Linked DNA regions of Homo sapiens: all the other regions are linked to region 4. Evidence: fine-mapped expression QTL. A gene starts in region 4. Each other region holds a variant in brackets. All regions are shown on one strand. Distances are from middle to middle. Region 1 has its middle 12 kb from the start of PP2D1. Region 2 overlaps RAB5A (RAB5A, member RAS oncogene family). Region 3 overlaps PP2D1 (protein phosphatase 2C like domain containing 1). Region 4 holds the start of RAB5A (RAB5A, member RAS oncogene family).

Evidence for each region. PIP is the estimated chance that this variant, and not a neighbour inherited with it, causes the effect.
Region 1: its variant is the best candidate, but not a certain one, in a credible set for the expression of RAB5A in testis (GTEx, PIP 0.58).
Region 2: its variant is the best candidate, but not a certain one, in a credible set for the expression of RAB5A in whole blood (TOPMed, PIP 0.53).
Region 3: its variant is the best candidate, but not a certain one, in a credible set for the expression of RAB5A in neutrophils (CEDAR, PIP 0.52).

The regions. Positions count from the first base shown.
Region 1 is chr3:20,021,022-20,027,401 of GRCh38, forward strand. No RefSeq gene overlaps it. Among named protein-coding and RNA genes, the nearest start is that of PP2D1, 12 kb to the left of the region's middle. RefSeq lists a cis regulatory region at 1,839-2,286. The variant G/A (reference allele first, on the strand shown) is at 3,149.
Region 2 is chr3:19,971,220-19,976,888 of GRCh38, forward strand. RAB5A (RAB5A, member RAS oncogene family) reads left to right here. Exons shown (of 6, transcript NM_004162.5): 3 at 4,382-4,533; 4 at 4,828-4,950. Among named protein-coding and RNA genes, the nearest start is that of RAB5A, 27 kb to the left of the region's middle. The variant G/T (reference allele first, on the strand shown) is at 2,763.
Region 3 is chr3:19,995,913-20,001,597 of GRCh38, forward strand. PP2D1 (protein phosphatase 2C like domain containing 1) reads right to left here. Exons shown (of 3, transcript NM_001252657.2): 2 at 5,118-5,685. It also overlaps the pseudogene RNU4-85P. Among named protein-coding and RNA genes, the nearest start is that of PP2D1, 14 kb to the right of the region's middle. The variant C/CTT (reference allele first, on the strand shown) is at 3,169.
Region 4 is chr3:19,943,836-19,950,215 of GRCh38, forward strand. It overlaps RAB5A (RAB5A, member RAS oncogene family), which reads left to right and starts at 3,262. Exons shown (of 6, transcript NM_004162.5): 1 at 3,262-3,686. It also overlaps a transcript of EFHB not described here. RefSeq lists enhancers at 2,143-2,744, 3,155-3,324, 3,250-3,419, 3,281-3,330, 3,851-3,900 and 1 more.

The DNA of each region.
Region 1 (6,380 bases), 77 kb after region 4:
ATCTGGATAGACACTACACTAAAGAAGATACACAGATGGCAAATAAGTATATGCAATGATGTTAATAATGTATGTCACTAGAGAATTGCAAACTAAAACAACGAGATACCACTACACAGCTAACTAGAATGGCCAATCCAAAACACTAGCTACAGCAAAGGCTAGTGAGGATGTGGAGCAACAGGAACTCTCATTCATTACTGGTGTGAATGCAAAATGGTATGGCTACTTTGAAAGACAGTTTGGCAGTTTTTTACAAAACTATACATAGTGTAACCATATGATCTAGCAATGTTACTTCTTGGTATTTATCCAAATGAGTTGAAAATTTATGTTCACACAAAAACCTACACATAAGTGTTTATAGCAGCTTTATTCATAATTGCCAAACTTGGAAGCAGCCAAGACATCCTTCAGTAGGTAAACAGACAAACTATGGTACATCCATACACATTGCTCAGTGATAAAAAATAAATAAATAAAAATAAAAATAAGCAGGTACGGTGGCTCAGGCCTGTAATCCCAGCACTTTGGGAGGCCGAGGCAGGTGGATCACTTGAGGTCAGGAGTTTGAGACCCGCCTGACTAGCATGGTGTAACCCCGTCTCTACTAAAAATACAAAAATTAGCTGGGCGTGGTGGTGCGTGCCTGTAATCCCAACCACTTGGGAGGCTGAGAGGTAGGAGAATTGCTTGAACCCAGGAGGTGGAGGTTGCAATGAGCTGAGATCGCGCCACTGCATTCCAGCCTGGCAACAGATCAAGACTCCGTCTCAAAAAAAATAAAATAAAATAAAAAAGAAATGAGTTGTCAAGCCCCCAAAAGACAAGGATGAATCTTAAATGCATATCACTATCAGTAAGTGAAGGAAGCCAACTGAGGCCAGGCATGGTGGCTCACGCCTGTAATCCCAGCACTTTGGGAGGCTGAGGCAGGTGGGTCACCTGAGGTCTGGAGTTCGAGACCAGTCTGGCCAACATGACGAAACCCTGTCTCTACTAAAAATACAAAAATTAGCTGGGTGTGGTGGTGCGGGCCTATAGTCCCAGCTACTTGGGAGGCTGAGGTGGGAGGATCACTGAAGCCTGGGAGGCGGAGGTTGCAGTGAAGCAAGAGTGTGCCACTGCATTCCAGCCTGGGTGATAGAGTGAGACCCTGAAAAAAAAGGAAGGAAGGAAGGAAGGAGAAGGAAGGAAGGAAAGAAAGAAAGAAAGAAAGAAAGAAAGAAAGAAAGAAAGAAAGAAAGAAAGAAAGAAAGAAAGGTAGGAAGAGAAAGCAAGCCAACTGGAAACAGCTACATACTATATAATTCTAATTATATGACATTCTGTAAAAGACAATACTATGGAGACAGTAAAATGATCAGTGGTTTCCAGGGGTTCAGGAGAAGAAGGGATGAATAGGTGGAGAACAGGAGATTTTTAGGGCTGTAAAACTATTCTGTATGATAATGTAATGGTGAATACTTGTGACACATTTGTCAAAACCTATAGAATGTACAACACAAAAAGTGAACTTTAATGTCAACTATGGACTTTAGTTTATAATGATATATCAATATTGGCTCATCAACTATAACAAATGTACCACGCTAATGCAAGATGTTAATAATAAGGGAAAGAAGTGGTGGGAGGCAGTGAAGTGTATATTGGAAGTGTCTGTACTTTCTGCTCAATTTTTTTGTAAACCTAAAACTACTCAAAAGTAAAATGTATTAATTAAAGTGTGGTGTGTGTGTGTGTAAGCAGGGCATTCTGAGAAAATATCTTTCTGGAAGTGCATCTAGTAATTTTTTCCCCCTAATTCATATCTGAAACACATACAAATAAACAGTGAATGTTGTAGGAAATTAGAAGATAGACCACTATCTTGGGAAAGATAACAATGCAAGAGAAGAATTCCTTTATTTTAAGATGGTTATTTCAATTAATTATTTTATATATTGAGCACCTGCAGGGGTAGGCACTAGACATAAAGGCCAACAGCAGGTCTCTGTGCTTGATGAGCTCAGTGCCTGTCATGGGGAAGACAGACACACAGATGCACTACTAGATAATAACATTATCAGTGCTGACCATGTGCTGGGCTCTTTCTAAGCATTCCACCCACATTGTCTCTCAACCATACAACAACCCTGCACACAGGCACTAATAATCTACTTTACAGACAAGGACCCTAAAGCTCTAGAAAGTGAGTTAACTTTGCTGCAATAAATGGCAGAGCCCAGGTGTGTTGACCTGCAAACAGTTTGTCAGAAACTGCCAAACTGTCTTCCAAAGTGGCTGTAAAAATCAATTCATTTTGGAAGAAGAGGACAATCAGTGATACATTTGCTTAGATGTTTCTTTCACATTATTTGAAAGCGTTGAACTTCAAATACATTCACAAATCTTAATATCTGGTTCTCCCTCTTCCATTCTTGCCTTACTCCCACTGGAATAAATTCTTTGGCTTGTCATCCTCCCAACTTCAGGACAATCAAATACATATGGCTTAATGGGAAGGTGGTCAGATTAGAAAATATTCACAGCCAATCTCTCCAGTAGGCAGCCCTTGTTTGGCTTAAAACTGCCCGTTGAATTCAAGTTTCTTACATGTTCCACAACTATGATTGTAAAAGTCAAGGCAGCAGGCACCAGCCTGTGTGGAAGAAAGTTATATTTAGTATTCCTTTCGGAGCTGTCTCTTTGGATATCGTGGAGATTCTGGTACAGGCTGTTACTGTTTGAGGGCTTCTGGGCCTGTGGCAGAGAAGGAGTGGGTGGTTTGCTGACAGTTCTTATAAATACCCCCAGTATTTATTTAATGGCAGAAACACACAGAGAGAACACACAGAGTATTAGAGGAGAGAACATAGCTTAGCTCCATTCATCCCCTGGGCCCAGGACCAAGCACTTCTAATCTGTTCTGAGGAACTGCTTCTGGGGCCAGCTGCAGCCCTGTGTCTGGGGGAAGTCACCTGCCTGCTTGCTGAAGGAGGAAGGAAGGAAGGAACAGGGAACAATGAGGCCCTTGTAAAAGCCAAGTTTTGCTTTTTTTTTTTTTTTTAAGTTTATTTTCTAACCATATCACTCTTCTGCTTAAAACCTTTCAGTAGCTTTCCACTGTTTCTGGAATAAAGGTCAAAAGTCCTAATATGATGAGAAA[G/A]GTTCTGTAGGGCCTGGCCAAAGCCTGACTCTTCAGCCTAATCTCTCCCCACTTTCCCATTCATTAACATTCCTCAAACATAATCCACACTCTGCCCACCTCAGGCCTGTACATGCTATTCTCTCTGCTCAAAGGCTTTTCTCTCCACTGGCACTCAGTTAATTCTAACTCATTCCTCAATTAAAACCTCATTTCCACAAGCTGAACTTTAGCATCATCAGAAAAATGTTTCCTGATGCTTCACAGGAATCCTCCACACTTTGTCAAATGCCTCCAGAACTCCTTATGCTTTGCATTGATTCAAGTTTTTTATTTTATTTTATTTATTTATTTATTTATTTATTTATTTATTTATTTATTTACTTACTTACTTACTTACTTACTTACTTATGTGAGACGGAGTCTTGCTCTGTTGCCCAGGCCAGAGTGCAATGGCACGATCTCAGCTCACTGCAACCTCCACCTCCCAGGTTTAAGCGATTCTCCTGCCTTAGCCTCCTGAGTAGCTGGGATTACAGGCACGTGCCACCACGCCTGGCTAATTTTGTATTTTTAGTAGAGACGGGGTTTCTCCATGTTGGTCAGGCTGGTCTCGAACTTCTGACCTCAGGTGATCCACTCACCTCGGTCTCCCAAAGTGCTGGGATTACAGGTGTTAGCCACCGAGTCTAGACTTTTTTTTTTTTTTTTTGAGACAGAGTTTTGCTCTTGTTGCCCAGGCTGGAGTGCAATGGCTCGATCTTGGCTCACCACAACCTCCACTTCCCAGGTTCAAGTGATTCTCCCGCCTCAGCCTCCCGAGTAGCTGGGATTACAGGCATGAGCCACCACGTCCAGCTAATTTTGTATTTTTAGTAGAGACGGGGTTTCTTCATGTTGGTCAGGCTGGTCTGAACTCCCGATCTCAAGTGATTTGCTGCCTCAGCCTCCCAAAGTGCTGGGATTACAGGCATGAGCCACCATACCCGGCTGATTCAAGTTTGTAATGGTGTATTTGTTTGATTATTTAAGCAATGTCTGTCTCTTCATTCCCATCCTGCTTGCCTTTTTAATCCCAGAGCCAATTCATAGATTCGTAGTAAATATGCCTGCTATATAGTAAAAGTTTCATAAATATTTATTAAATAAATTAATAAACAAATAGAGTAATCATTTGAGCTCTTAAATATTTAGTTTTTAATAGAGGGAGTAAGAAAGATTCCCATATTTTTCCCTCATCCTCAGTTCTTAGCAGTGAGGTCTTAGTCTGAAGATACGTGCCTCAGAAGCTGGCCAATAGAAGAGGTAAGAGAAGCCAGAGTGGACTCTGCTGAGAATTTGGCCACCAAGCAGTCATCTCCCTTAGAACTGTGCTCTCCAACATGGTAGCTATTAGCCCCATAATAGGTGGCTATTTAAATTCAAACTATTTAGAATTTTAGCTTATCAGTCTTATCAACCACATTTTGCACACTCACACATGGCCAGTAGCTACCATATTGAATAATGCAAATAGAGAACATTCCCTTTATCACAGGAAAATGTATTGAAGAGTGCTGCTCTGGAATAGAAAATACCCTCTTCTGCACAGAGCATAGGATTCTCAGCAGGGTGACAGAAGAGAGCCCATTTTCCCCTCTGCTTTCAAATCAGGAGATGGGGGAGAGACCCTGCATCTATTACTACATTTGTTTCTATCACATAGAATTGTAGGTGCTGCAGCTGAAGGTGCTTTATTGCAAATAAAACCACTAAATGCTTCCAAATACAGGGTTGTTGTGAAGATTAAATTAGTTACAACCCATGTTCAGGCCCTTAGTTGGCTCTCAATAAATGTTAGCCATTTTGCAATACTCATCATGTGAATGAAAAAACAAAAAAAAAAATTTAAATTTAAAAAGTTGGGCACGCCTGTAATCTCAGCACTTTGGAAGGCTAAGGTGGGAGGACTGCTTGAGCCCAGAAGTTTAAGATCAGCCTGAGCAACATAGTGAGACCCCTGTCTATACAAAATTTTTTTTAAAAAATTAGCTGGGGCTGGGTGCAGTGGCTCATACCTGTAATCCAAAAACTTTGGGAGACCAAGGTGGGTGGATCATTTGAGGTCAGGAGTTCGAGGCCAGCCTGGCCTACATGGTGAAACCCTGTCTCTACTAAAAGTACCAAAAAAGTTAGCCGGGCATAGTGGAGCACCTGTAATCCCAGCTACACGAGGGCGGAGGCAGGAGAATCGCTTGAACCCAGGAGGTGGAGGTAGCAGTGAGCTGAGATCACACCACTGCACTCCAGCCTGGGCAACAGAGTGAGACTGTGTCTCAAAAAAAAAAAAAAAAAAATTAGCAGGGCATGGTGGTGCATGCCTGTAGTCTAAGCCACTCGGGCAGCTTAAGTGGGAGGATCACTTGAGCCGGGGAAGTCGAGACTGCAGTGAGCTGTAATTGTGCCACTGCATTCCAGCCTGAGTGACAAAGCAAAGCTTTGTCTCAAAAAATTAATTAATTAAATAAATAAAAAGTAAATAGATGGTAGCCACAATTGTTATTGGCTGAAAACCAAAGTGTTAAGTGCAGAATAGACTCTGGTGAAAATAATCTAACTTCTCTGAGCCTCAGGTTCCTCATCTGTAAAATGAGAACAGCTTTTTCTATCCTGGTAGGATTACATAGCGTGTTTTGCAAAAAGGGGTTATCACAGTACCTAACATGCAGTAGGTTCTCCAAAACCGTTAGCTCTTCTTTTTTTTTTTTGAGACAGAGTCTCGCTCTGTTGCCTAGGCTGTGGTGCAGTGGTGCAATCTCGGCTCACTGCAATGTCCGCCTCCCGGGTTCAAGCAATTCTCCCGCCTCAGCCTCCCGAGTAGCTGGGATTACAGATGCCCACCAACATGCCCAGCTAATTTGTGTATTTTTAGTAGAGACGGAGTTTCACCATGTTGGCCAGGCCAGTCTCGAACTCCTGACCTCAGGTGATCCACCCACCTCAACCTCTCAAAGTGCTGAGATTACAGATGTGAGCCACCGCGCCTGGCCAACTCTTGTTGTTTTATTATTGGTGGACGCTATATCAAATTTGACTTTCTCATGAATCACCTCAGAAATTGGATTCCAGCTGTTAAAACATTCCAGGTGTGTGTTTTAAGATGTACGGATGTGGCTAGTAGTGCTAACTTCCTGAAGCTTTCATTTGGTTTTGCTGAGGGCTAGCAACCCAACCTGTAAGTCAAATTGTTGGCATGAGTTAAATTTCCTTTGGT
Region 2 (5,669 bases), 27 kb after region 4:
ATAGTAGTATTTTAAAACTTTAGGACTTTGAGAAATCATGAACGTCTTAGGGTGTATTATGTATATCAAGAGTTTATTATAGTGGGCTACACTATTCCAGTAATATTTCTGTTCATTTAGTACTGTAGCACTTTTCATTTTTTAAAGTATATTATAAAACTGATTTTCCCTGGCCTCTAATGTTGGTCTTTTCTCCCCCAAAATTATGCTTTATCATACCACATGAACAGTAGTACGGTGGTGGTGGTGGTGGTGGTGGTTGTTGTTTTGAGACAGAGTTACACTCTTGTTGCCCAGGCTGGAGAGCAATGGCACAATCTCAGCTCACTGCAACCTCTGCCTCCCGAGTTCAAGTGATTCTCCTGCCTCAGCCTTCCGAGTAGCTGGGGTTACAGGCATGCACCACCATGCCTGGCTAATTGTTTTTGTATTTTTAGTAGAGACGAGGTTTCGCCATACCGGTCAGGCTGGTCTCAAACTCCTGACCTCAGGTGATCCACCTGCCTCGGCCTCCCAAAGTGCTGGGATTACAGGTGGAAGCCACCGCACCTGGCCCAGTACAGTGTTATCAGGTGAAAAATATCTTGATGTTGTTTTTGAGGTTGTGTTACAACTTGAGTAGATACCTTGTGAAATATCTATTTTTTCACATTTGGGAGCTGCCTCTCTCTACATTCAAATGTTATCTGAAGTAGCCTCTAAATGGTTCCATGTATCTTTTTGAACTTCCTTCTTTTAGTAGACATTTTTGAACATCTGTATGAACAAGGATTTATATTAAATGTTGGTACAGAGAGGAGCTACTACAAGTTGAGCATCCCTAATCTGAAGTCTGAAATGCTCCCAAATTCTTCGAGCATCAATATGATGTCACAAGTGAACAATTTCCACACTTAACACCTTTGCTTTCTGATGAGTCAGTGTACATAAACTTGGTTTAATGCACAAAATTATTTTAGCTTCAGGCTATGTGTACAAGCTTTATGTGAAACAAACGAATTTCATGTTTTGACTTGGATCCCTTCCCAAAAATATCTCATTATGCAAATATTACAAAATCTTTAAAAATCCAAAACATTCCTGGTTCCAAGCATTTCAGATAAGGGATACTTAACCTGTGGTCATTGCTCAAGTAACTCCCAATCAAGGAGAAGAAAAAGATATAAACCAATGATTATAAAAGGTGTGAAACGTTATTACACAGAGAACTCTGGGAGCACAGATGTAGGAGATATTAACTAGGGTGGAATGAAGGAAGGTTTCTAAGCAGAGTTGAGGAATGAATTGATTATCTTCTTTGTTAATCTGAATGGGATCCATTCCTGTTCAGCATGATTTCCCTTGGTTTTGTTCCTAGATTTAGGAATGATGCCCTGTTTTGCCATAAGGAAGAATCTCGTGTGTTTATTAGGAATGGATATTGACTCAAATGCCTTTTTGTAATTTGTTTAAATAAAATGGATTTTTCTTCATTAGCCTGTTAATGTAATAGTTTTGTATTTCTGAAAGAATGTACTTGGTAATGGGCATTTGTTTGTCTTAATGTATTTGTTGCAATTTCTTTGTATTTGGCATTTTTGTACATGTATGGTGTACATGTATGGTGGCCTCTTGTGTCTTTAACTGGCTTGAGAATTGGATCATATTTTCTTTAAGGCAACATCTCTAATACAGTTGGCCCTCTGAATCTGTGAGTTCCACATTTATAAATGCAACCAACTGCAAGTTGAAAATATTAAGGGGGAAAAAATTAACTTAGCTCCAAAAAGCAAAAATTAAATTTGCCACACACTTAATACTATGTTGAATCTATGTGGATGACGTGAGGTGCAGGCATTGTATTAGATATTATAAGTAATCTAGAGATGCTTTAAAGTATACAGGAGGATGTGCTTAGGTTATATACACATACTTTGCAATTTTATATCGGGGACTTGAGCATCCTCAGATTTTGTTATCCATTGGGGATTCTAGAACCAGTCCTTCATGATATATGGGGAGGTCCTGGAAACAGTCCTCCACAGATACTGAGGGATGACTATAGTTATTTCCCTGAGCCTGAAGTTTACTTATGGACGTATAAGTGAATGTTTTTAGTACTAGTAGACTTTGTGATCATAGTATGTCTGAAAAATGAAACAGTCTGTGCACATTTTAATTCCTTTTTTTTTTTTTGCAAGTCTGCATCAAACTATACTTGAAAAAAGGCTTATGTATTGTGACTTATTTTCCTCTTTTCCTTTTTGGTAAGAGTACTGTCTTAGGGACTTAATTTTAGTTTAAAATTTTAGTTTAAAAACATTTTTTGATCCTACAGGAGAACCTCTCGTGACCTTCAAAAAGTGACATAGTGCTGTCTGGATATCCTTTACCATAAATACAATATTTTAGAAAATGGACAATTCTGCTAATTGTTGGTTAAAAAAAAGTTTGAACTGGATTAGAATATATTTACAATGTGATTAATGAGAATTCATAAAACTATTAATTAGAATCTAGGTCCAAATGAAGATGTTTACAGTATTGTTTGCAAAATTCAGAAGATTTTAGTTGTTGATACTAAAGCCAGCAACCAGTTAACCTAAAAGAGCGTGAAAAATAAATGTTGTGTCTAACGTAAAAGAGATATATCTCATTAGACTTTGTTTCTTTAGCACATTTGATACTGGTTAGTACATCTCTATCAACGTCACTAGATAAACGGCTGTAATTTAGAGAAATATATCATAATTCTTTTGCATAATATGACAGTTTTAGAAAAT[G/T]GTAATTCAAGTGCATACCAATTTGGAAATAGGGCTTGAATATCACACCTTGAGCTAAATGTAGAAGGAAGGGAGGAGCATACCAATTTACAGTGAATGATAGAGCAGCAGCAGAGGGCGGTCTAATGGCTGTGTGTAGGTCTTTTAATTTTAACAATATTGTATCATTTTATAATGCTACTTTTTTTTTTTTTTTGAGACAGAGTCTCTGTTGCCAGGATGGAGTGCAGTGGTGCGATCTCAGCTCACTGCAACCTCTGCCTCATGGGTTCAAACGACTCTCCTGCCTCAGCCTCCCGAGTAACCGGAACCACAGGCAAGCGCCACCATGTCGAGCTAATTTTTGTATTTTTAGTAGAGACAGGGTTTCACCATGTTGGCCAGGATGGTCTTGATCTCCTGACCTCGTGATTTGCCTTCCTCAGCCTCCCAGAGTGCTGGGATTACAGGCATGAGCCACCACGCCTGGCCTATAATGCTACTTTCCTAGTGTTAAAATTAGAATCAGGGAAAGTACAGATCCAAAAAATTCTTATGGCAGGGAATGAAAGGTAGGAGCAAATATTGAATCAACTGAACAAATTAAATCTAGGTTAAGGTAATAATGACTACCACAATTAAAGTGTCACAATGTTTTAAAAAATAATATAGCAAGAGGCCTGGTACGGTGGCTCACGCCTATAATCTCAGCACTTTTGGGAGGCACTCCAGCCTGGGAGATAGAGCAAGACTGTGTCTCAGAAAAAGAAAAAAAAAGATAATATAACAAGAAATACTAATTTGGTGGTAACTGACTGGGACTAAATTGCCAGTGTGCGCCAATAAAAACTAGTAAAATGGAACAGGACATGGTGTCAGCAGTATAGATGGTACTTTTAGGCACACTGGGTTTCCCCCAACTTCATTTTTTAAGACTATCAGTGCATTTCTTTAATTGTAGAGCAATTTTGAAATGCAGTCTTCGCTGGGCTTGGTGGCTTACGCCTGTCATCCCAGCACTTTGGGAGGCCAAGGTGGGCGGATCACCTGAGATCAGGAGTTCGAGACCAGCCTGGCCAACATGGTGAAACCCCATCTCTACTAAAACTACAAAAATTAGCCACGTGTGGTGGTGCATGCCTGTAGTCCCAGCTACTCAGGAGGCTGAGGCAGGAGAATTGCTTGAACCCGGGAGGCGGAGGTTGCAGTGAGCTGAGATCACGCCCCTGCACTCTAGTCTGAGACTCTTGTATCAAAAAAAAAAAAAAAAAGAAGAAGGAAAAGAAATGTAGTCTTAAGTTTATTTAGTATTATAACAAGCTTTTTTAAGATGCAGAAGTTTTTCAATCTGTGATTTCACTACAAAGGCCCTATATGTAAGCATATATGTAAATAGCTTAGAAGCACAGGTTTGCCAGTATTTAAAGCTATTATCAGCTGTGGGTATGCAATCTGTCAAGTTTCTAGGTGTTTTCTTTTTTTTTCCCCCCTCATTTATTACTTTTAACTGACACATAATAGTTGTACATACTTACGGGGTACAGTGTGACATTTTGATAGATGTATACAAGCAGGTGTTTTCTATATTATGAAAACATTTGGAGAAAAATGATTGACTTATTGTAGTCCTTTTCTTTCAGCTGCTTTTCTAACCCAAACTGTATGTCTTGATGACACTACAGTAAAGTTTGAAATATGGGATACAGCTGGTCAAGAACGATACCATAGCCTAGCACCAATGTACTACAGAGGAGCACAAGCAGCCATAGTTGTATATGATATCACAAATGAGGTAAGTATGGATGCATTCCACAGTAAAACTAATTTGAGTACCCACTTTTGGTGTTCAGAATTTTGATTAAATGTTTTGGAAAATCTTTTTCTGATAGTCATGACCTTTCTGCTGAAGCTTTTGTGAATTAGAAAATCTGGTTTTAAAAAAAAACGAAAATGTCTCATAATACAATAGTCCTAATAATTTCTTTCCCACAGTCACTTGGGACAGTCTTTTAAAGCCTTGTATCACAAAGATGCTTGGTAACCATTTTTTGAGCCTGTGCTCAATGGCTGTTTCTTTGTTTAACAGGAGTCCTTTGCAAGAGCAAAAAATTGGGTTAAAGAACTTCAGAGGCAAGCAAGTCCTAACATTGTAATAGCTTTATCGGGAAACAAGGCCGACCTAGCAAATAAAAGAGCAGTAGATTTCCAGGTATGTTAAATTTAACTCTCATTTGAAAGGCACTTTTTTCCTGTATGTTTTTCTTTCATGTCAACACTTGAATTAGTTATAATGTCAAAACCATGCAAGTAATAGAAAATACTGATTTTTAAAACAAATATAAAGTACTACATATAATAAAATGTTTCTGATAAACCTAAATTTTTAAATAGATTATTGTAATATATAAACTGACCCAAAGATTTTGTAGACTTAAACAATAAAGGCCGGGTTCAGTGGCTCACGCCTGTAATCCCAGCACTTTGGGAGGCCGAGGTGGGTGGATCACCTGAGGTTGGGAGTTCAAGACCAACCTAACCAACTTGGAGAAACCCTGTCTCTACTAAAAATACAAAATTAGCTGGAGATGGTAGTGCATGCCTGTAATCCCAGCTACTTGGGAGGCTGAGGCAGGAGAATCTCTTGAACCCAGGAGGCGGAGGTTGTGGTGAGCCAAGATCACACTATTGCACTCCAGCCTGGGCAACAAGAGCAAAACTCCGTCTCAAAATAAAAAAGAAAAACAGTAAAAGTAGTCATTGTTCACAGTGCAGAAAGTGATTGTATCCTGCCCTAATTCCTCCATCCCACACATACTTTATGTCCTAACCCTCTTCTACTCATGTGCAAATATGTATCAGCACATGTGTGTACCCCACATATGTACATACGCAAACACTTATGTGGTTGTTCTTAAAGGGGCATTCAAA
Region 3 (5,685 bases), 52 kb after region 4:
GAAACAAATGAAAATCAAAATATAACATACCAAAACCTATGGGATGCAGCAAAAGTGATACTAATAGGGAAATTTATAGTAATAAACTCCAAATAAACAACGTAACAATGCACTGCAAGAAACTAGGAAATCCAGGACAAACTAAACTCAAAATTAATAGAAGCAAAAAAAATAAAGATCAGAGCAGAATTAACCAAGGTAGACACTAAAAAATACACATAGGAGCAATAAAACAAAAGGTTGTTTTTATGAAAAGATTTTAAAAGTCAATAAACCATTAGCTAGCCTAAACAAGAAAAAAGAGAGAAAATCCCAAAAAAATCAGAAATGAAAAAGGAGACATTACAACAGATGCCACTAAAAAACAAAAGATCATTAGAGACTATTTGAACAACTATACCCTAACAAATTAGAAAACCTAGAGGAAATGGATAAACACGTGGACACTTACAACCCTACCAAGATTGGACTAGGAGGAAATAGAAAACCTGAACAGACAAATAACAAGTAGCAGGATTGAGTCAGTAATAAAAAGTCCCCCAAATGAAAAGCCCGGGACCAGATGGCTTCACTGCTGAATTCTACCAAACTTATAAAAAAGAATTAACACCAATTCTTCTCAAACTTTCAGAAAATTGAAGAGGAAGGAATTCTTTTTAACTCATTCCATGAGCCCAGCATTACCTGGATACCAAAATCAGAAAACACACAACAACAAAGAAGAAAACTATAGGCCAATATCCCTGATGAATGTAGATGTGAAAATCCTCAACAAAATACTAGCAAGCTGAATCAAACAACATATTTTTTTTTTTAAAAAAAGCACCATGATCAAGTGGGATTTATTCCAGGGATGCAAGGATGGTTCACACAGAAATCAATAAATGTGAAGCTTTGTGCAGAGGCAGTATCATAGCCAGTGAGGTTTAGCCACGTTGTGATTATTGCTAATTGAAAACTTTTCCCCATAGCTCACCGTGACGACTTGTAATACAGCAAGCATTAAAAATAAAATAAATATGACACATTACCAACAGAATGAAGGAGAAATACCATATGATAACCTCAATAGATGGCCAAAAATTTTTTTGATAAATTTAACATCTCTTCATGATAAAACTTCTCAACAAATTAGGCATAGAAGAAACATATCTCAACAGAAGAAAGGCCCTGCTATGGTATGTATTTTTGTTTACCCCAAACATCATGTTGAAATTTTATCAACAATGCTGGAGATGGGTTCTGATAGATGTTTGAGTCATGGGGAGCAGATCCCACTACTGAGTATGATAAATAGCCCACCGTGACGACTTGTAATACAGCAAGCATTAAAAATAAAATAAATATGACACATTACCAACAGAATGAAGGAGAAATACCATATGATTATCTCAATAAATGCCCCCCAAATTTTTCTGATAAAATTCAACATCTCTTCATGATAAAAATTCTCAACAAATTAGGCATAGAAGAAACATGTCTCAACATAATAAAGGCCCTGCTATGGTATGTATTTTTGTTCCCCCCAAACATCATGTTGAAATTTTATCAACAATGTTGGAGATGGGTTCTGATAGATGTTTGAGTCATGGGGAGCAGATCCCACTACTGAGTATGTAGCCAATGGATATCAAGGAGATACCTGCACCCCCACGTTTTATGCAGCACTATTCACAATAGTAAAGATACAGGGTCAACTTAATGTCCATCAGTAGATGAATGGGTAAAGAAAATGTAGTATAAGTACACAACGGAATACTATGAAGCCATGAAAAAGAAGGAAATTCTGTCATTTGTAGCAACATGGATGGAACTGAGGGCATTATGTTAAGTGAAATAAGCCAGACCAGAAAGACAAACATTACATGTTCTCTCTCATATGTGGGTCCTAAAAATTGTTGATCTCAATGAGGTAAAGCAGAATGATGGTTACCAAAGATTGGGAAAGGTTGGGGACGGGGCAGGACGAGATAAAGTAAGGTTGGTTAATAAGTACAAACAGTCCAGGCACAGTGGCTCACCCCTGTAATCCCAGCACTTTTGGGAGGCTGAGATGAGCAGATCACAAGGTCAGGAGTTCGAGACCAGGCTGACCAACATGTTGAAACTCTGTCTCTACTAAAAATACAAAAATAGGCTGGGCACGGTGGCTCACGTCTGTAATACTAGCACTTTGGGAGGCAGAGGAGGGTGGGTCACCTGAGGCCAGGAGTTTGGGACCAGCCTGACCAGCATGGTGAAACCCTGTCTCTACTAAAAATACAAAAATTGTCCAGCCGTGGTGGCATGCACCTGTTATCCCAGCTACTCAGAAGGCTGAGGCAGGAGAATGGCTTAAACCCGGGAGGCGGAGATTGCAGTGAGCCAAGATCGCGCCACTGCACTCCAGCCTAGGCAACAGAGTGAGACTCCGTCTCAAAAAAAAAAAAAGGTGCAAACATACAGTTAGAGACAAGGAATAAGTTCTAGTGTTTGATAGCACATTAGGGTGACTATAGTTAACAATAATTCACTGTATATCTTAAAATAGCTAGAAGAGTTGAAGTGTTCCCAACACAAAGAAATAATACACATTTCAGGTGATGAATATCTTAAATACTCTGATTTGATCATTACATATTATATGCATATATCAAAATGCCACAGGTACCCCATGAATATTTATAATTATTATGTATCAATAAAATAGATAAACATTTTTAAAAAGAATGTGAGTTTGGCAGTACCTTTTTCTACATGCACAAATTCAACCTGTATTCAATGGCTTCATCATTGAACTAATATGTCATTATAAGGTAATAATTTTTTTTAAATTCTAGAGTCATGATGACATTGATATATTATGAATTTTAAACAGGGAAACCTAATTCCCTTGCTATAATTAATCCTGTTCTATAAAATACAAAATAATTCTTGAAAAATTTGTGTAAAATTATTTTCTTATGGCTGAAAGTCATTTAAAGTTCTTTCTTACAGAAGTACTTTTGTAGCTAAATCATGACCTCAGGTTCTCTCTTTTACAATTTGAATTTTTTTCACCCATGTGTCTTTCTATGAAAATGCAACATGCCTAGATGCAAACAGTTTAACACCATTGTATAGGCCTGGAAATTAAATCCAACTGTTTGACCTGGAGATTAGAACCAACCAATCAGCAGTGTGTCTAGA[C/CTT]TTTTTTTTTTTTTTTTTGAGACAGAGTCCTGCTCTGTTACCAGGCTGGAGTGCAGTGGCATGATCTCAGCTCACTGCAACCTCCGCCTCCTGGGTTCACACCATTCTCCTGCCACAGCCTCCTGAGTAGCTGGGATTACAGGCATGCACCACCACTCCCAGCTAATTTTTGTATTTTTAGGAAAGACAGGGTTTCACCAGGTTGGCCAGGATGGTCTCGATCTCCTGACCTCGTGATCCACCCGCCTTGGCCTCCCAAAATGCTGGTTACAGGCGTCAGCCACCGCGCCCAGCCATTTTTTTATTTTTTATTTTTTTGGAGACGGAGTCTCTCTTTGTTGCCCAGTCTGGAGTGCAGTGGTGTGATCTCAGCTCACTGCAACCTCCGCCTCTCAGGCTCAAGCGATTCTCCTGCCTCAGCCTCCTGAGTAGCTGGGATTACAGGCACCTGCCACGCCTGGCTAATTTTTTTTTTTTTTTGTATTTTTAGTAAAGACGGGGTTTCACTATGTTGGCCAGGCTGGTCTCAAACTCCTGACCTGAGGTGATCCACCCACCTCGGCCTCCCAAAGTGCTGGAATTACAGGCGTGAGCCACCACCCACAGCTGTGTCTAGACATTTAATGACAGTATCCACTTATTGAATATGTCATAATTTGTCATATTAATTTTACAAAGACTTTTATAATTAATGATATCTTCCATAGGGGTCCCAATTCCAAGAATATGGGTCAGTTCACAGATTGGCCTTAAATCTGTAATGATTATGTCTATGAAGTATTTGGAACCTCAGCATAGAGCCTGAGAAACGACAAAGACTGTGAGGCAGTGGACATGCACTTAGCTTTCTTGGTATTGTTTAGTCTGGAGCCCTTGACATTTCAGGCTCAGAACCAGGTTGGATCAGAAACAGGCTGACTTTCTGGCACCTTGACATTTGTTGTAGTATTCTTTGTGATTATCTGGCCTTGCAACACTGTCTCTGCCACAAAGTCCCACTCGCGGAGGCCCAGCCTCCTCAGGCTTTGGAAACAATCCCCTTAAGAGGTAACATGATATGGTAGGACTGATTTCCAACTCCAATTCCTATTACTTCTGAGACCTTGAACAAATTATCTCACATTTTTTAGCTTTAATTTCTCATCTGAAACATTGGGTTAACAATACTTAGATATCACTAGATATCAAAGTTATTGTAAGACTAGACGAGGAAATTACTCTGTATTCAATATTCAGTAAGTGGACACTATCATTAATGATAATTCTATCTATGAAAAGGGTAGTAGAACTGTAGTTAAGTATCTCATGGAACTCAGTGTGGAACTCATGTCAATTTTGCTAAAAAGTTTTACCTCTGAGCTTTCCATTTTGGCAAGTTCCTAAACTCCCTGAAATAACCTTTAAACAATACAGGTAACTTCTTAAAGAAGAGAATACACGCTCATAAAACTGAGGCATGAACTATTATTCTCTCTGAGATGAAATAGATGCTACTTGGCCAGTGAGCATGAGAATGACCTATTGCAAATACAGTTATCAGAGTAACTGACCAATTTAAACAACTACACTAACAATGAGCAAACAACTTTCCATTTTTCTGAAAAAAGGAAGTGTACAAAATGTTTTTAATTTTGTTCAGATTTAAGCATATGTAGTAACTTTGCTTTTCATCCTTATCAACAACTGTGTTGCTACCCCTTTGGGAAACTTTAACGTATTTGTCACATTATATCATATCTGTGCCTCTTTAAAAAATAATTACAATTATTTTTGTGCCTGCAATCTGCATTTAAATTGTGGTTATTTGTTGTTTCTTATATTGATCAATGCAATTTCTAGGTACTAAGTCACTAAATAATAGACAATAAAAAATTGTGGAAGCATGAGGGGTTTTGCTGCAAGGAACCAAAAACATAAAGGTGTTATTTGGTGCTATTCAATGTACATACCAGTGTTTGCAACATGTAATATTCCAGAAATTATTTTTGGCATCTCCTGGGAAGGGGAGCTCTCTGCCAACCCATCATGGGTATTTTTTCTTTTCCAATTCTTATGAGCATAAGGACTTTTAGGTTTGCCTTCCAATATACAAGTAACTGCAGAGCAGCCACTCCATTGAACCCTGGACACTTCTTTTCTTCCAAGACCTAAAAGCCTATCCATTCTCCAAAATGCTTTTGCAAAGGCTTTGTGTGTGTCCTCATACTCACACCTCACTGCTTCTGTTTTGTTTATGGCAGAAAAGAGGTCTTCTATTGCTGCGTATTCTTCTCTAAACACAGTGTAAAAGGAATTGATTATTTGTTGCTCATCAGTTGTCATTTGGTAAGAAGGATCAAATTTGGAAAGCTGATGGAGAAGTAAAACTGGGAGTTCCATTGATGTCAACTCTGCCGCTGAGGCACCGTGATGTCCATCAAACAAACCAAAAAAACACACATTAGGTTTGTTACCAAAATTACTCACTACAGTGAATTTATCATTCATGTCAGCTTTCCATGTAGAATTCCTGTCTTC
Region 4 (6,380 bases):
AGATAACCATTAAGTGGAACGATGCGTAATATCATATCAAATGGTGCTAAGTGTTATGAAGACAATGCATAATATCATATCAAACAGTGCTGTTATGAAGACAACAGACTACTTCGATATGTAACAAAGCATTTAGAATTAGTGGGCTTAGAAGTCCCTTAGGTAGATGACATTTGAGCTGAAGCCTGAATGATGCCCTCCAAAGACACAAGCTTTTGAAACATGACTAGCTTAAGTTTTCACAGCCTTTTATTCACTGACTTGCTACTACGCCAATGTTAGAGTTACCGTTGGTTTGTCTCCAGGAAAAATTTTGAATTGTCTCCAGACAGTTCCAGTTAAAAGTAAATGTAACCATTCATTATCATCTATGCAAAGATTCATTCTTTAGCTACACAAGGGAGGACAGATTTCCTGGAAGAGAAGGAAAAGGTTATGGGATCCTGTGAATGGTAGAGAGACACCTGCCACTGGGAATTTGTTATTGAGTATTTAGAGATTTGAGGGCAGTATAAGCATCAAAGACAGTGTTTAAGTCTTCATGATTATTTATCCATTTTGTACCTTCCTTAACAAGTTCTATCAACTGGTAGGACTCCACATTTGACACTAAAATATATACAATTATCAGTCCTCCTCAGTTATCTGGGGCTATGAAAAAGAAAACATAGGCATATTGCAAGTGGCAATAAAACAACAGAGCTTTACTGTGTCATTTCAATTTCTCTAAAACTACTACCGGATCTTTAGAAATGCCAGCCACCAGGGCAGCACTCTTCCAGGCAAACATTATGACTAAACTGTAAAATATTGTGAAAAGTATTCATGAAGGAGGTGAAGACAAAATCACTAAACAGGAACGAGTGAAGAAGCAACATACTGGAACGATGAAATAGGGAGTTTTTTGCAATTTATAAATTTCAGCATCAAATGTTTTTCATTGTGAGGTCTTCTTAATGTTCGTGATTCTAAATGTAATTAAGTTCACCAATACTTTGGGGGTCCCTATTATAGCAGTCAAGGGTCTTCTGTGAAGAACTGAAATGATGAATAACTGATGGTCACAGCCCTTAAAAACCTTATAATTCAATGAAAGGCTAAGGAGAAAAGTCCAGGTGCTCATTAGCTATTAAAATAAGGCAGATTTTAAGACAGCCATTATACAGAGTAAGGCAAAGTATTGTGAAATTACAGAAAAAATAATAATTGAATCCAGTAGAAGTATCTGCAGATGCGGTCCAAAGGAACTGGTGTCCTGGCTAAGACGGAGCCAGCAGTTATGGGCAATGATAGTGTTCCATGTGGAGAAAATAAAGTGATCAGATACCAAGATGGCAACACACAGGCAATATTCAGGGAACACAGACCAGATACGTGTGATCAGGGAACAAATAAAGAGTATGGGGAGAGGAATTCTATAGAAATAGAATGAAAGAAACTTGGGTTGGGACTAGAGTTAAAGAACTTTAGACTGTCAAGTAATGACATAGCATTGAACATTTTTTAGTAGAGTGGCTAAAATGTAAAGAATGGACAGAAAGAACAGCAGTATGCATTAATTTCAGTTTATATAAACACTACCATGGACCAGGTGTTGGGATTAGACTTCAAATTTGGGGATTAGATAATTTGTTGATAGAATGGACAATGGTTTGTGAGGAGAAGAAAGAGGTGAAGCTGATTCTGCAGTTCCAAGTCTGGGTGACTGGGAGGATGTTAATGCCAGTCTCTAAGCAGAAGCAGGTTTGGAGTGGAATAGGTTTCGTTTTGGGCATACTGTTGACATGACAAAACTGATGTCACATATCCTATTTCCTGACTCCTCCTGGGATTGTCCCAGAGCTATTACCATGATTAATAGTTCATATTGAACAACTCCTTGAGAATAAAATGCCACAGGTATCATTTACGTATGACACATTACGTTCTTCTGGCAACTAGGTAGTTGATCTGAAAGACGGGCTGTTCAAAGTTCAAATCATCTTAATTGCACAATGCCGCCGACTGTACGCCCATAAGATACCTTAACCCGGTACACTTCAAAGACAATATTCTCGCCCTTACAACAGAGCTATACATTGTAAACTGCAAACTGAAAAGTAGCCTTTATTCTGAAGGAAAATCAATTTAATATTCTTCCACTAAATTATCAAAACAATTTTTTTGGCGGAGGCTGGGGAGGGGGTGGTGGCTGAAGCCTCGCCAGAGACTGAATGTGGTGTGGGATTCAACTAAAGCAGCACATCTTCAGTAGGTCCCCCGTGGAGGGTAACGAACATCTTGGGTTGTCTTTCACCAGAATTGTGTTCAACAACTCACGTTCTGGAGCCAACCCGCCGCAGATCAGAATCCAGCTTCTGCACCACACAGCCGTGATCTCGGACAAGTTACTCAATCTCTTGTGTCTCAAATTCTTTACCTATAAAACATCTACAACTAGAACTGAAGACTTGGCTGCCAGGCACTGGGCTAGACATAGATTTACAGCGGTGAGGACCACCAAGGGGAGCTAAAATTCGAATGTAGGGAACAGACGATTAACAAGTTAGTTTCAGAATGAAAGACTCGAGTGTAAGAATTCAATGGGATAATTCCTGTAAAGCGTTTAGTACAGTAAAGAGCGAAGGGAAATTCTGAATAAAAGGCAGACACTATTTTAGGATTTGGCCTTCCCCGCCCCCTACCAAAACCACGTAAACTCTTAACAGAAGCGACTTCTTATTGTCAGGCGCCTAAAGGCGGCTTTTGGGATAGGGAGGGTCCTTTCTTCCTCCTTGGGGTAAATGCGATTTAGCAGCCTTTACCGACCTACCCAACCCCAGGGCCATTTTGTGGGAGGAGGTTCTCTCGTGCTAGACAAGTTCCCTCTAATAAAGCCCCTTAGCCGAGATGCCAGGATTGGGGTTAGGGAACCTCGCCGCTCCCACAAGGGCTGGGCACAAAAAACAAACAAAAAAACACAAGTTATTTTGATCTTCCCCCAAAGAATAGTAAAGGAATTTCCCCCGACCCCGGCCGCCAGGAGCCCAGAGACCCCCCAGCCTAAATAACAATGGCGCTGGAGAGGGCGTGGCCGCGCGTACCTGGGGTGGGGGAAGGGGAGAAAGGCGGCCAGTTCGGATCTGAGCCACTCGCAGGGTCACGTGACATCCTGCCTCGCCCCGCCCCGCGAACAAACCTAGGCGGGGAGGGATTCGGGAAGGGGCGAGGAAGCGGAAGGAGCAGGCGGACTGGCGATGATGGGAAGTGACGAAGTGGCGCAGTTCGCTGCGTGCAGCGACGTGGCGGCGGGGCCGGCACCGGGCAGCGGAAGTGGCTCCGGCGGTGGGACTTGAGTGTTTGTGTTTTGGTTCGTGAAGGAGCCGGCGGCTGGCCTTAGGGGAGGAGGCAGAGGGAGGAGGAGGAGGAAGAATTAGTCGGAACTCCAGCGCCGGCGGCGGCGGCGGCGGCGGAGGAGGAGAAAGGAAAGAGGAAGGGGGAGCGGCGAGAGGCGGAGACGGAGCCCGACAGGGGCGGCACCACGGCACGAGCCCCGCACAGTCCAGTGTGAGGGGAGCGGCGCTAAGAGCAGGCGACGCCGCCGCCGCCACCACCACCGCCATAGATACACTCTCATCCTACGGGCCACGCCTGGGCCTTGCTGCCAGGAAGCTTCGGCCCCGCAGCTCGGCTTGCTGCGGTCTCAGGTAACCGAACCGCCCCTCCTCCTGCGCAGCGGGGGCCTGGACCCCAGGTTATCCGCGGTCCCCAGCCTGTCCGCGGCCCTGCCGGTACTGAGACCCCCCACCCCTTCTCCCTCACGCGCAGCAGTGCCCTGGACCAGAGAACTATCGAACCCGGCGTCTTGTTCTGCCAGCCCTGGTGACTCATCCTCCAGGGGCTCTGGAGACCGGGATTTGGGGACTGACTGAGGGAGCGACGGGTGTCACCCTTTCCCTTCTCAAGATGGCGCCGTGGAAAGTGTACTGGAGGCCGCGGTTCCGCCTGGTCTCCGTCCTGGCAGTCCTGGGGGTCTCGGTCAAAGCAAGGCAGGTTCGGGGGAGGAGGTTGGAAAGGCCAAGGGACCTGGCGAGTGCTGCTTATCCAGGCGATCTGTAGTTGGCTATTAGCTACTCAGGTGCTCTCCAAGCAGGAACCTGGGCCTACTGCAGGTGTCAATGTGGGGAGCTCCGCCTATCTTCAACTTCCAAAGATGAGTAGTGTCGGTGGGTGGGAGGCTCGTCAAAATAGGCTGTCTAGAGACTTGTTTTCTGTTTGGAAGGTAGTGAACTACAGCGTTAAATAAATTCAAGATAACAGGACCGCTGAACTCCTTCACTGGGTAGAGACCATGGAACTTGCTCTGGCGTTATCTTCCCTGGAAGCTGCTTACCTCTGAGACTTTCAAACTTGTTAAGTTCTGAACGTCATAGTTCACATACTTGGTTTTTGTCTTGCTTAAATGGAATCAAAGCGTTCAATCAGTTGCCTTTCACATAATAAGAAAAAAACACTTGTACACCTCTGGGAATACTCAAGACTGCTCATAAACTTTATTCCTAAAGTAAAATGGAAGTGATAACTCAGCATTTGTATAAACAAAGTAAATGGAACAGTGCCTGGCACAAAATAAGTGCCCAGTCAATTTTTTGATCAAAGAACCCTTAGAAGGATTTTAACTATAGAATGAATAACAGTTATTTTCAAAAGATTACAAATGTATATTATGCAAAATTCTTGTTTTGCAAAACAGAAGTTTCAGTAAGCAGTGAATACAAATGAATGCACGTAATTTTTAACCTTAGTGTTATGCTAAGTGTATATTTACCATTAACTTTAGTTATTTCCTGTTTGAGATCCTTAGGGGGAGTAGCCACAATTAAGTAGCTTTAAACCTTAAAAGTCAAAGTGAAATCAGAATCTTGTTTGATTTTTTTTTTTAATGGGAGTCTGATATTTTCCCTAAAATTTTGGAAGTGCCGTAGAAATTTGGAGCATATTGTCCTTGATAAGTAATTTCTTGTTTTCTTAAATAAAAAGACAAATGGAAAATGTTTTGATTGTGTGTAATATCTGAAGATGTATTGGTGCATTTTCAGTATATATGATGTTCTATTGATATTTTATCATTTTCTTATCAAAGGAGCACATTATTGGCAATTTCAATCCCTACTATGTATATTAGAGATTGTTTACATGTATTGTTTTATTTAATTGTCACATCAGCTATGCAAGTTAGATATTATGGGAATAGAAACTTGGAAATTAAAGAGTTTGCCCAGACGGAAATTGGTATAGCCAGGATTACACCCCTAAATCTGGTATGTTTGTGGAGGAGGGGGCATTTTTATTTATACCTTGTTATTTGGAAGCAACTCAGATATTACGTCAATAAATCTGTAAATATTTCAGTATGTAATGGTAAAAGATAAGGACTCTAAAAAGCTGGTGTTTAGTTAAGGCAAGGAGGTAGTTTCATTGCCTTAAGAACTAAGATCTCGTGGACATGTTAGGGAATTCATTATGAAGAGCGTATTATAAGCTCATTTTATGGGAAAGGCATATTTCTTTCTTTTGTTTTTAATATAGAGACAGGGTCTCACTGTGTTGCCCAGGCTGGTCTCAGAGTCCTCCTGCCTCACCCCCAAAGTGTTGGGATTTACCGGTATAAGCCACTCTGTCCAGTGTGAAAGACGTATTTCTTATATGAGGTAGCTAAATGAAATATAGCAGGGTTTTTAGAGAGGGAATCATCAGGTTTAATATATTAGCATGTATTCGGATTTTGATTAAAGATAGAAGGAAACTGTTAAGATTGGTTTGTGAGTGGATTGAAAAAGGTTCTTCAAATATTCACTAATTCCTTAGAGATTAAAAATTAGCATAGAAGTCGCCATTCAGGCTAGATTTCTTTAATGTGTTGTTTAAATAAAAAATAATGGCCTGCAGGCTGGGCGTGGTGGCTCACACCTGTAATCCCAGCACTTTGCGAGGCTGAGGCAGGAGGATTGCTTGAGCCCGAGAGTTCAGGATCATCCTGGGCAACATAGCAGTTAAGTGTCTCTACCAAAAAATTAGCCTGGCATGGTTCTGAGCGCCTGTAGTCTCAGCTACTCAGGAGGTTGAGGCAGGAGGATTGCTTGAGCCCAGGAGGTCTAGGTTGCAGTGAGCTGTGACCACGCCACTGCACTCCAGCCTGGGTGAGAGAGCAAAACCCTTTCTCCAAAAAAATTTTTTTAAAAATGGCATGTATATTGTTCGTCTAAAGACTACAAAAAAGTTACAATTATTGTAAGTAAATAAGTCAGTAATAATCACCACATGGAGAACAACTGTTAGCATTTCTGTGTATGGTGTGCTTGAGCAGATGAGGAAACAGTTTTAAGTCTGCCGTTAGGCAC